Linked DNA regions of Homo sapiens. The protein of the gene in region 1 purifies or fractionates together with the protein of each later gene. This does not show direct contact. Each region holds a gene or a part of one and is shown in the gene's direction. Other genes may lie near its edges. The genes, in order: SECTM1, NUP210 and DDX60L.

What was found.
Region 2: the proteins of SECTM1 (region 1) and NUP210 purify together in Homo sapiens (affinity purification with mass spectrometry, with the first as the bait; one large-scale study listed by BioGRID). This does not show direct contact.
Region 3: the proteins of SECTM1 (region 1) and DDX60L purify together in Homo sapiens (affinity purification with mass spectrometry, with the first as the bait; one large-scale study listed by BioGRID). This does not show direct contact.

What each region holds. Positions count from the first base shown.
Region 1 is NC_000017.11:82,323,765-82,327,411, reverse strand, and holds part of SECTM1 (secreted and transmembrane protein 1 precursor), read left to right. Parts: intron 1-119; 5' UTR 120-171; coding exon 172-265; intron 266-2,521; coding exon 2,522-2,830; intron 2,831-3,647. UniProt on the Homo sapiens protein: May be involved in thymocyte signaling.
Region 2 is NC_000003.12:13,413,815-13,417,461, reverse strand, and holds part of NUP210 (nuclear pore membrane glycoprotein 210 precursor), read left to right. Parts: intron 1-3,647. UniProt on the Homo sapiens protein: Nucleoporin essential for nuclear pore assembly and fusion, nuclear pore spacing, as well as structural integrity.
Region 3 is NC_000004.12:168,477,569-168,481,812, reverse strand, and holds the start of DDX60L (probable ATP-dependent RNA helicase DDX60-like), read left to right. Parts: upstream 1-1,320; 5' UTR 1,321-1,436; exon of another isoform or gene 1,437-1,618; intron 1,619-2,009; exon of another isoform or gene 2,010-2,177; intron 2,178-2,251; exon of another isoform or gene 2,252-2,527; intron 2,528-4,244.

The sequences.
Region 1 (3,647 bases):
CAGGTCGGGGAAGAGCTCGGGGACCCCCAGCCTCCCAGCCCCCGCCAGGTGACAGCCGCTCCCGCTGTCCCCTTCAGCAGCTGCAGGGGGCTCTGACCCATGGGCTTTCCTTCCTCCAGGGAGTGTTTCAAGAGCCAGTGACAAGGACCAGGGGCCCAAGTCCCACCAGCCATGCAGACCTGCCCCCTGGCATTCCCTGGCCACGTTTCCCAGGCCCTTGGGACCCTCCTGTTTTTGGCTGCCTCCTTGAGTGCTCAGAATGAAGGTAGGTCTCGGGGCCCCGCCTCTCTGCTGGGGAAAGGGGGGCCCGGTGGGGGCATGACAGGGGCAGGAGGGGTGGACTGAGGTTGGGTCCAGGTGCCACCAGACCCCCGATAATGACTGACTCTGCAGACCCAGGGCCTGACCATGTGGAGCTGGGCTGCCTCAGGTGGCGGTGAGTGGACCGTGTCCCGCCGTGGGTGGAGGGTGGTGGTGAGTGGGCCGTGTCCCGCCGTGGGTGGAGGGCGGTGGTGCCCGCTGTGGTACCTGGTGGTCACTGTCAGAGCAATTGTGGGGAAGGACCAAGATCACGACCAGTTTCCAAGGGAGAGGGTCTGGGTCAGTTGCGACCTGTGCCATGGCCGGGAACAGACAGCAGCCCTGGCCTGGGGGCTCCTTAGTCAGGCGCACCTCAGGCCTGCCAGGAGTGGATCTGCATTTGAACAGGGTCCCCCAGTGAGATCCTCCCCAGCTCTCTAGATCCCCAACCTGTCAGCAAAGTGACCTGAGGGGCTTTTCTTTTCTTATCTTTTTTTTTTGAGACGGGTTCTACCTCTATCGCCCAGGCTGGACGCCCAGGCTGGAGTGCAGTGGTACAATCACAGCTCACCGCAGCCTCGACCTCCTGGGCTCAGGTGATCCTCCCACCTCAGCCTCCCGAGTAGCTGGGACTACAGGCATGCACACCATACCTGGCTAAATTGTGTATTTTTTGTAGAGATGGGGTTTTGCCATGTTGCTCAGGCTGGTCTCAAACTCCTGGGCTCAAGTGATCCTCCCACCTCGGCCTCCCAAAGTGCTGGGATTACAGGCGTGAGCCACTGAGCCACCCGAGGGGCTTTTAAAAGATGTCAGAGCTCAGCCACATCCCAAACCACATCCCAAAGCAGTTCAGTCAGAATCCTAAGAACGAACAAAAAACAAAACAAAACTGAAAGGGAAGAATCCCAGGTGGAAGAACCCTGGTTTCGGGAGATTCTGCCCCCACCCCCCAACAGTGGTTCCAAAGTGTAACTGGGCTGGGGCACCCCCTGGACAGCCGCCCGCTGCCCTCGGGACGGTGTGAATTTGTGCAGTGGCCTTAGAGGCCCTGCAGTCCCTGAACACTCAGAGCGTCCAGGCAGGCAGCCAGCCTGCTCGTCAGAGGAAACTCAGTCCAGCCCGAAGGCCAGGTGCCCCTGAAGCCCACCTCCTCCCATGGGCACCAAGGCCCCTGGCACTTGCCAGCACATGGCACCCACCATGTGGTTTTGTATTTGGTGAAATGTGGCCAAATGGCGGCTCCAACCAGCATGCTGTGTGCTCCCCGAGAGCTCACCCTGCCGTCCGTCTGTCCGTCCATCCGTCCGTGTCCAGTCACTGGTGGACGCTGACGCAGCAGGGACAGTAGCAGCACCAAGACCTCAGGCTGGTACCATGCTCGGGCCCGACGGCCTGAATCTCAGGCATCCTTGAGCTGGCTGCTGGGGCAAAGGCCCCAGACCCTCTGAGGGAAGCAGCTGCACGGGTCGCTATGGGGCAGGGTTCACCCAGGAGGCGGGAGAGAGAGACTGACACGCCGGCTTGTGTCAAGGACTTGACCTCCCAGGACTGTGGAGCTGTGTATGGAGCTGGCCCAGCAACCTGGAGCTGAGCGGGTGGCCGGGAGGGGAAAGGGAATGTTGGGGGTGGCACAAGCAGGCTGGGCCCCACAAGGACAGGCTGGAACCCATGTCTGCTCTGCTTGCCTCTGAGGCTGGCCTGTGGGTGTCTGCAGAAGCCCTGCCCTTCCTCACGCAGCCGAGCACCTGCACCTGGCCTAGGCCTTGGAGAAACAGGAGGGAGCTGGGGGCGGTGGGGCCTGGCCACTGCTTCCCACGAGGAGGGTGATTCGGCAGGTCAGTGGCAGCACTCCTGCCACAGCGCAGCCGCCCGGCACACACCTGAGGCTCTGACTTCACCCACCCCAGTGGAAATATACAGGGGAGGGAGTTGATAGGAAATGCCTTCGTCCAAGCTGACACACCCCAAGGAACAGACGTGGGTGTGAGCACGCACACACACACACATACACACACACAGAGCCACCCGTCTTTTTTGTTGCTATTTTATTCTTCCCACACGAGATATATGTGCTGATTGGGTCGGGTGGATGTATACATAGTTCACTGTGTCCCTTAGAGGCCCTGTCTCCTGCCCTGGCCCTGGCCCTGGGCACAGCAGCCAGCCAATGCCCTGAGGTCCAGCCCTGATCCGTGTGTGCCTCTGTCTGGCCCTACAGGCTGGGACAGCCCCATCTGCACAGAGGGGGTAGTCTCTGTGTCTTGGGGCGAGAACACCGTCATGTCCTGCAACATCTCCAACGCCTTCTCCCATGTCAACATCAAGCTGCGTGCCCACGGGCAGGAGAGCGCCATCTTCAATGAGGTGGCTCCAGGCTACTTCTCCCGGGACGGCTGGCAGCTCCAGGTTCAGGGAGGCGTGGCACAGCTGGTGATCAAAGGCGCCCGGGACTCCCATGCTGGGCTGTACATGTGGCACCTCGTGGGACACCAGAGAAATAACAGACAAGTCACGCTGGAGGTTTCAGGTGAGGGGAGGCTCGGGGAAGCAAGGGGGAGGGGAGTGAGAGGGGACACGGGGAGGGGAGGGGGCCTGGGCAGGGGGAGGGCTGAGACTGAGAGGGAAGGAGGAGGAAGAAGAGCAGGCATGAGCCGGGCTGCCAGGAGACAGGGTTGGCGGGTAGAGAGTTGGGGTGGAGGCCTCTTGACCTCCTGGGACAGTTCTTCCTTTGGGAGGGGCAGGGGTCAGGCAGGAGGCTCAGGGGGCACAGACCCCACAGTGGGGTGGGACCCACAGAGGGCAGCCGGAGTCCCACAAACAACACAGAACACAAAGCTGCTCCTCAAAGGAGCCCAGTCTGCCTGTCAGGGGTGGGGGCTGCACCCTGCAGCCAGGAAGCCCAGGCACCCCCCGCCTCCCTGCCACCCCCACCCCGGCTGTGTGGGGAAACTGCACCCCAAATACCTGTGCTCTGAGAGGCCCTCCAGACCCGCAGCACCTGGCTTCGAGGCACCTGCCCTCCCTTTACTGGGGTCACCCAGAGGTGCTCAAGGTCGCCCGCGCAGCACCCTTAGTGACCACGAACAGGGGCCTCCCAGGCTGCCACGGTCCTGCCCCGCCCCTCCCACTCCCACTCCCATGTTGTCCACCTCGACAAGCACCTAGACCACACCTGCCCTCGCCACTCCTGTCTTCAGGGCTGGGACCACCCCCGACCCTTCTCTGTCCCCACCCCTCTCCTCCTGCCCTCAGGGGATGCTCGCTGCCCCACTCTCTGCCTCAGCTCCCCCGACACAGGCATGATCACCACCCACTCATGTCCCCACTAGCCCAGCCCACTGCTC
Region 2 (3,647 bases), on another chromosome or scaffold:
AAAATGAGAATTCTGCCAGACCCTGTGGGAACATTTGCACATCCATTGAATTTGCAGCTGAGCTCTAAGTTTACAGAAATCACTGTGTGTGCCTGAGCCAACAGCTTCATGTTTACTTTTCCTATTTTTTTTATTTTATAACATCAAAATTGGACAGTTTTCGGGCCAGGGGAACCTTAGAGGTCACCTAGTTTAAACAGCCTGTGTTTCATATAGGAAAACCTGAGCTCCAGAAGGGGAAGTGATCTCTGGGAAGTCTTGTAGCGATGGACACTGAGTTGGAGCAGGAGCTGCTGGGACCCCTCCCTGTCCCACGCCATTAGACCTGGGGACTGGCAGCCTCTGGCTAATTTGCCAGGCTCTAATTCTCTCCAACTGCACCCAGCCAGCACTGGTTTTGTGACAAGTTCCTGATTCCTTCTAGATATTTTGCATTATTGAAAGTGTTCCATAAAGTATATTACATTTGCTCCTTTTAAAGGTATATACAAAACGACCTCATATCAAAAACTGGGAGAACAGACGAAAAAGAAATCATGCCATAATCTTCCAGCTGTAATACAATCACAGGCAGCATTTTGGTTTCTTTTCGGTCACTTATGTTTCCTCTCCTAGCTCCTTTCTTACATTGCCTTGAACCTGGTTATTTGGGCACCTCGGGAACCTCCTCCCCTGCCAACACTGGCTAGCACTGAAGCCCAAGCACTGCTCTGTTGCTTCTTCCTGAGGGCTCCGTGTCTGAGCACCTTTCTGCTGGGTTGAAGTTGCCTCCTCATTGATTCTTTCCCTGTCATGGAGTCCCAGGGTATTCTGGGTGCTCCAGCAAGGGGGCGCTGTCTTGGAGAAAGTGAGTGGCTCAGATTGGTTTCCCAGGGGTGGAGCCTGAGGCAGGATTCTGCTGCCCTAGTTTACAGAGAAAGTGCTCTGTTGGGCAGCTGGATAGGGAAGGGAGGCTGCCTGCAGGTTGTCCTGCCTTCAGGCGAAGAGACCAAGCTTTGAGCTTTTGTACCCACTGTCAGGCAGCCATTGGTTCCCCTGGGGAAGGGGATGTTGTGCGACCTCCCGGGCCTCTGGCGGAGACACTCTGTTTTGAATTACGACCTGCAGCTCCCCTGGCTGAGGTGGGGAGGGGATGTGGACCTGCCTGGTGAACAACATCCAGACACAGCATGCACAGTGACTGCCATACCAAGCTGTTCACAGACTTCTCCTTTCCTGCCCCTGACAGTCTCTCCTGGGCACCTTGGAGCCATCTAACACGTGTGCCAGGCCTGGTCCTGCACCAGGGTACACCCTCTCTTATGTGGTCTGGGGCACTTCTCAGTCACAGGTGTAAGGATTCTCAAACAGGTAGATGGGAGTCCTTTCAGGGCCAGGGAGGGCACTGGTCCCTATGCCGTGGAGCTTGGCCTTGGGGCATGCTGTACCCCAGGCAGTTCAGATGACCCCTGGGGAGTCCCTCTTTGCTGAGGGGTGACTGTGGGAGGCCAGAGGCCAGCACTACCCTTGCGTGTGGATGTCCTGGGTCCCTCTCCCTGCCCCAGCAGGGGAAGCTGCAGCAAATCCCCTCACAGGCCTTCGTGGGTGAAGTTGGGCACTAAGGGTGAGGGATGCACGCTGAGCCAAGTCAGAGTGTCATCTGGCCTAGCTGGCTTCTGCTGGGCTCAGGGACCCTGAGCCTCTGGGACGGGCACGTCAGCAGGTCACATGCTGGAAACTTGCACAGGTGAGGCAACAGGGCCTGTAAGAAGTTGCCCCATAGTCAAAATAAAAAATTCACAAAGTGGAAACAACCCAAAAGAGGGAGTTGAATTCGACGGGAGGCCCCCAGTTTGCTCTTCTGTACCTCCTTCACTTGGCCTTCCCTGAGCCCACACCTGTACTTCTGCTCTTTTCGTTGAGAGTGTTTTCCCCTGTACCACTCAATTTGTGTGCATGCTGCATCCCCACACACCTAGGCCAAATCTCTGTCTCCTTCCTTATGCCTGGCCTTAGAGTCACAGGCTTTGGTCGATTGCGTTATCATCTGGGCCTATTTGATGGCATTTCTGGCAGTTAGAAAGTGGGGTGGAGAAACCAGAGCTCCCGCAGGGCCTGGGAGAGGGCACACGGTGAAGACCCGTCCTGCCTGAGCACCAGGGGACAAGCACTGATGGACGACACATATTTCACCGAGGAGGGCTGGAGAGTCACTGAATAAGAGGTGACAAATGTCTGTGACTCTTTTTATTTTTTGAGATGGAGTCTCGCTGTGTTGCCAGGCTGGAGTGCAGTGGCACGATCTCGGCACACTGCAACCTCCACCTCCCAGGTTCAAGCTATTCTCCTGCCTCAGCCTCTCAAGTAGCTGGGACTACAGGCACATACCCAGCTAATTTTTGTATTTTTAGTAGAGACAGGGTTTCACCATGTTGGCCAGGATGGTCTAGATCTCTTGACCTTGTGATCTACCCGCCTCAGCCTCCCAAAGTGCTGGGATTACAGGCATGAGCCACCACACCCACCTGTCTGTGACTCTTACTATGAGCCAGGCACTACTTGAGGTCCTGGGATGTGACAGTGAAGCAGCAGGAGATGCCCTGCTCTCAGGGACTCACAGTTGATTGCCGGAGTTAAACGGTTAATTAAGATGAGATCTGTGGATGCATGTGAGGCAGGAGTAAGTCCTGAAGGAAACAGAACTGCAAGGCATGGAATGTGTTTTGGGGAGGGCGCTCAGCATAAGCCTCCTGGGAGTCGAACTAGGAGTGGAGTGGGGTTGAGTTGGAGGGGACAGCAAGTGCAAAGGGCCGGAGGAGAGATAGAGCTTGTCAGAAGTGCGCAAAGGCAGCACGTTTGGCCAGGGCAGCAGGGCTGGGAGGGAGGGTGGAGAGGTTGGCAGGGCGGGGCCATGTGGGACCTTGTGGGCTGTGGTTAGGAGACAGGAAGGAGAATGCCAGGTCAGATGTGGGCAGGGTTAGACTGGGCCTGGTTTTTGGGCCTCGTTCTCCCTGGCCCCTGAGGGCTGTCTGTAGCTGTGGCCCCTGCAGGGCTGGACCGGGCCTTGCTCAACTCCCTTCACCAGGCCCGCAGCAGGGAAGTGCCAGGAAGTGTCTGTGGACCTGGGTTGACTTGGGCCTTGGGTGATTTTCTTCCTGCTTCCTTTGTGGGTCCCCCACTCTGCCTGAGCTCTGTCAGCCCCACGAGGTGGCTTCCGCTCTGTAGACACTGCCTTTGGGCACCGTTAGGGGCTGGACCCCGCGGGTGGATGGGAGGTGGCGTGTGTCATCCACCACCCTCACCCATCCTTGTTCTTTGTGCAACTCTCACTTCTCTTTTCTTTTCACTGTTGCTTTCTGGCCTGACCCAGGTCCCTGAGTTCCCCTATGGCCTGCCTGCCTCCTGTTCCTGTGTTGTGAAGAGTGGGGAGCACCCCCTCAAAAGCAGTGCCTGCCAGACGCCAGCACATTCTGTGTGCCAGTGGGGCCTCATGCGACAGTGGGAATGAGAAAAATTCACTCTTTCAAAACTCACTGTCAGTCCTTTAATTTTCCTCAAAATAAAAGTTTTCTTCTGGTGTCTGTATGTGGTTTACATATTTTTTTATTTTAAATTGTGGTAAAATATATATAACATATAATCGACCTCCTTAACCATTTTTAGGTGTA
Region 3 (4,244 bases), on another chromosome or scaffold:
AAGAGGAAATCCCCATTAAATTGTATGTGCTTTGGGGGAGGAATAATGACACTGTAGTATTTAAAAGAACTGGAATGAGATAATATATACAGAGAATATTGTAGATATTATCTTTGGAATTAAATTTTGAAGTCTTGGCTACCATTAACTACCTGTAGGGTCATCGACAAGTAATTGAATTCTCTAAGCCTTATTTACCTCATCCATAAAATAGCAACAGTAAAGTTGCTCATGGGATTTCTGTGAGATTTAATGTGATAATACATGTTAAGGGCTTAGCCTATTGCCTGGCACATAAAAAGCTCAATGAATGCTTTTACAGCAAAGCCCAATTTTCTGCTGCTAGCAAATGCATTCTTATGATACAAAGGTCCAGTATCAGATGCTAGAGAGGAATTCATCTGAGATGAACTCATGACTTAATCATGAGTCATTTCAGGTTCTTTCTCAATGTCATCCTCATTGAGAAAGAGAATCATAACTATTTTCAACCAAACATAAAATTAAAGAAAAATCCTGACAGAAGTGAGCAATGTTTTCACCTCCTTTTCGAAGCCACTTTATATTCCAGAGTCTGAGAAAAAACTTTGTTCTTCTGGGCTCTTTCTATTGTGAACAAGTCACTTCCACCCTTTCCTTTTCTTGAAGACAGAACTTCCGGTTTCGATTTCTCTCCATTTATTACCCCATGCCGTTACTGGGGCACCCTCACCACCACCTTGAATCTCAATATATTCTGCACATGCATAACGTCATGGAATTAAGCGTCTGGAGCACTAAAGACCATGATGGGCTGGGGTTGAAACTCGAATTTCAAACATTAATGAGCTTGATGACAAAACTAAAGAGCATTCTTCTTCTCAATTTAAATTCTCTGTGATAGATGATTGGTCTTTCAAATGTTCACACTGGACAGTTATACTATTGGAAATTTTTCATAAAATGAACTTCTTAGGACAGAAACTCAAAGCCCCTAATCCTTTTTTACTCCATTTTTGCCTGTCCAGTACCTTGCCAGAAAAGAAAAACGCCACACCTCACCGCAGACTTTCATAGTGCTTAGCGTGCTGCATTTACTCTCAGCCTCAATTCCTTGTTTAGAGTCCCAGATTTCTCTGCTTTCTTTCCCTTTACAATTACATGCATGTCCCAGATAGCATATCATCGCTTCTACTATTACTTCCCTAAGATTCTCAGAGTAAACCAATGCAGACCTATATTCTACCTCCAGAAAACTGCGGAAATCGAAAAGGCCTCGCGGTGGAGAAAAGAAACCGAAACTAACTCCCTAGATAAAAACTCAGGCGCTGGCTGCTGTGTGGCTCAGAGCGCCCAGTCCGACGCCAGGCTCTGCGCTCGGTCTCCTCTGCTCCACCTCCTCCCCGCGGGGCGTGCAGCTCCGAAGCTCTTTGGACCTAGCAGGTTCGGCGGCCGGGGTGAGGATTGCGGGTGACGTCGGGTGTCGCTAGGGACCCTGGAGCGGAGCTGTCCCGCGGGGGTTCTAGGATTCCTTCAACATCCAGATGGACCGGGCGGGGAGGTGGCCTGGTGGCTTCGTGCGCGCCGGGCGAGGGAAGCTGGGGCGCCCACTGGGCTCGGGCGGCAGCTTCGCGGAGAGGTAGGGAAGAGGGACAACCACCGTGAGAGAGGAGAGTGCTCAGGCATTTAACGGGTCCTCTGCACCCGAGGGGGCCTGGGGATCTGGGGTGCTGAGGAGAAAGTAAGGGTCACCACATCTGAGCACAGCCATTCGAACCTGGACATTGACAGGCAGCAAGCCGCTTCCCTTTTTTCCGTCTTGTATTTAAGCTTTTTTTTTTTTTTTTTTTTTGAGTCAGTCTCGCTCTGTCGCCCAGGCTGGAGTGCAGTGGCGTTATCTCTGCTCACTGCAACCTCCACCTTCCGGGTTCACGCTATTCTCCTGCCTCAACCTCCCGAGTAGCTGGGACTACAGGCACCCGCCACCACGCCCGGCTAATTTTTTTTTATTTTTTATTTTTTATTTTTAGTAGAGACGGGGTTTCACCATGTTAGGCCAGGATGGTCTCGATCTCCTGACCTCGTGACCCGCCCGCCTAGGCCGCCCAAAGTGCTGGGATTACAGGCGTGAGCCACCGCGCCCGGCCGGATTTAAGCTCTTAATAGCGGAAATAAGGTTTTACTATTTCTCTGGAAAGGTACTTTGTTCTTTTTTCCCGCTTCTCTTTTGTTTACAAAGTTACATTGATAAATTTATAATAAACTTCTCAAGGTTTTCCATAATCAAAGAAGCTGACATCATCCGTGATGGGGCCTTAAGGATTATGAAAGCTCCTAATGACTGCTAGAAAAAGCGGTCAGAACCAAACAGAAGCAAGTCCTTTAAAGACACAATAAGAAGTCCAAACCATAACATCAACGACATACAGACCTTCATGATTTCGAGTGTTCTCCTGAAAACAGTAACATACCATTCAATCTAAGATTTGCAGTTTGAAGTTTGGTGGAACTCAGGTGCTGAGAGTTGAGGGTACTAAAATAAATGAGGGTGAGTTATGCTTCCAAGGCTCTTCGCCTTCTATCCCAAAGATATTGGGGATAGTTTAGTGTGAATCCTTCCTGATACTCTACAAAGAGACAAGTTTTTGTCTATAGCTCCTATCTCTCTATCCATCCATCCATCCATCCATCCATCCATCCATCCATCCATCATCCAGCCATCCAACCATCCGTCCATCCATCGATCCATCATCTGTCTATCTCTAGATCCATACACTTTAAAAGATATTTTGGCTGTCATACTGGTATGCTTTTCTTGGTTCATGATTTATTGGTACCTGTCAGTCTTACTTAGTAATTGCTGTATGATACCCCATGGTATGCTGGGTCATAATTGATCAGTTTTATTTGAAGCAGAAGAGAAAGACATAAAACAAAAATTAAATGCCCTTCTCTACTACTTTCCCCTTCATACTTAGTCTCACAGTTTTAGTTCTCCTGAGGCGTTACCACTCCAAAGATATACATTTCTTTCTTGGTTGCTTATAAATTATATGCTTACAAATCAGTCTTTTGTTTTATCTACTTTAGACAGACTCCGACGACTCCCTGTGAAAGAAATACTTCTAATATGAATTATATATTTTTAAAAATTCTTCTCAGGATTAGCTTTATGGCTTTTAATAAAATACCCATGTTAATTATCATCCACGGCTATGTTGATGTGGGTGGAAATCTCTGTGGTTTTCCCTGCTGCAGGCTCATTTTCTGCTTTGTAAGTATGGAGACCTGCTGGTTGATTTACTGATATCACCCTTTTTTATAACCTGCTGCTTGTTTTACTGATGTAACCATTTTTAAGGCAGCTCATAGTTTATTTGGAAATACAATTCTCTAAGAAATGTATCCAGCTTCTTATGCTCTAGTTAGTTCCCTATGCCGTTAATTACACCCAGAGAGTTTCTATTTTCATCCTAATTCCCTCTCAAATTAGCATAATCTGTCTTAAGTTCATTTGAAATGATAGTCTGGCCTGGGAGGGTAACACCTCCACCTAATACTTGCAGCAAGGCTAAGTCCTTCTGTTTAACTGAGAATTCTTTATGAGTCTTTGTTGAGCAAGGTGTTTTTTTTCTTTTTTTTTTGTCCTATCACTTTTTATTTGCAGTACAGAAGCTGTCACCTGTGCGACCCAAATTTCTTGGCTCCCTTCCTTCTTCTCCTCTTTTCCCCTCCCCTCCCCTCCCCTTCGCTTCCCTTCCTTTTTAAAATAGGGATGTGGTCTCATTTTGTTGCCCAGGTTGGTCTCCAACTCTTGGCCTTGAGCAGTCCTCCCACATCAGCTTCCCAAAGGGCTGGGATTATAGGTATGAGGCGCTGTGTCCAGCCAATTCTCTTCTTTCCAGCTCTGCTTTCATACCACCCAGTTCCTTCTTAAGACATTTCTCTTTCCCATTCTTCCTTGGTCATAGCTCCTCAAAAACAGCAACTAAAACACTATAGACATTGACCATCAACCTTTTCCAATCACTTTTCTGTGAGCATCAGGCTTGTTGGCATGTGGTTGGCTTCCTAGTTTTGAAGGGGATGATTTTTACCAGATATTTTGCTTTGCATCACCTGGGTTTCCAACTTTTAAGCCCAAGAAGCCTAGTTTCTCACTGCCTATTATCTGTCCATTAGGGTGGAGATACATACCATGTTTGATTGGTTTTATAATCTGTGTCTTCTCTTTTTACATCTAAGATGAGGATGAAAATTACAAA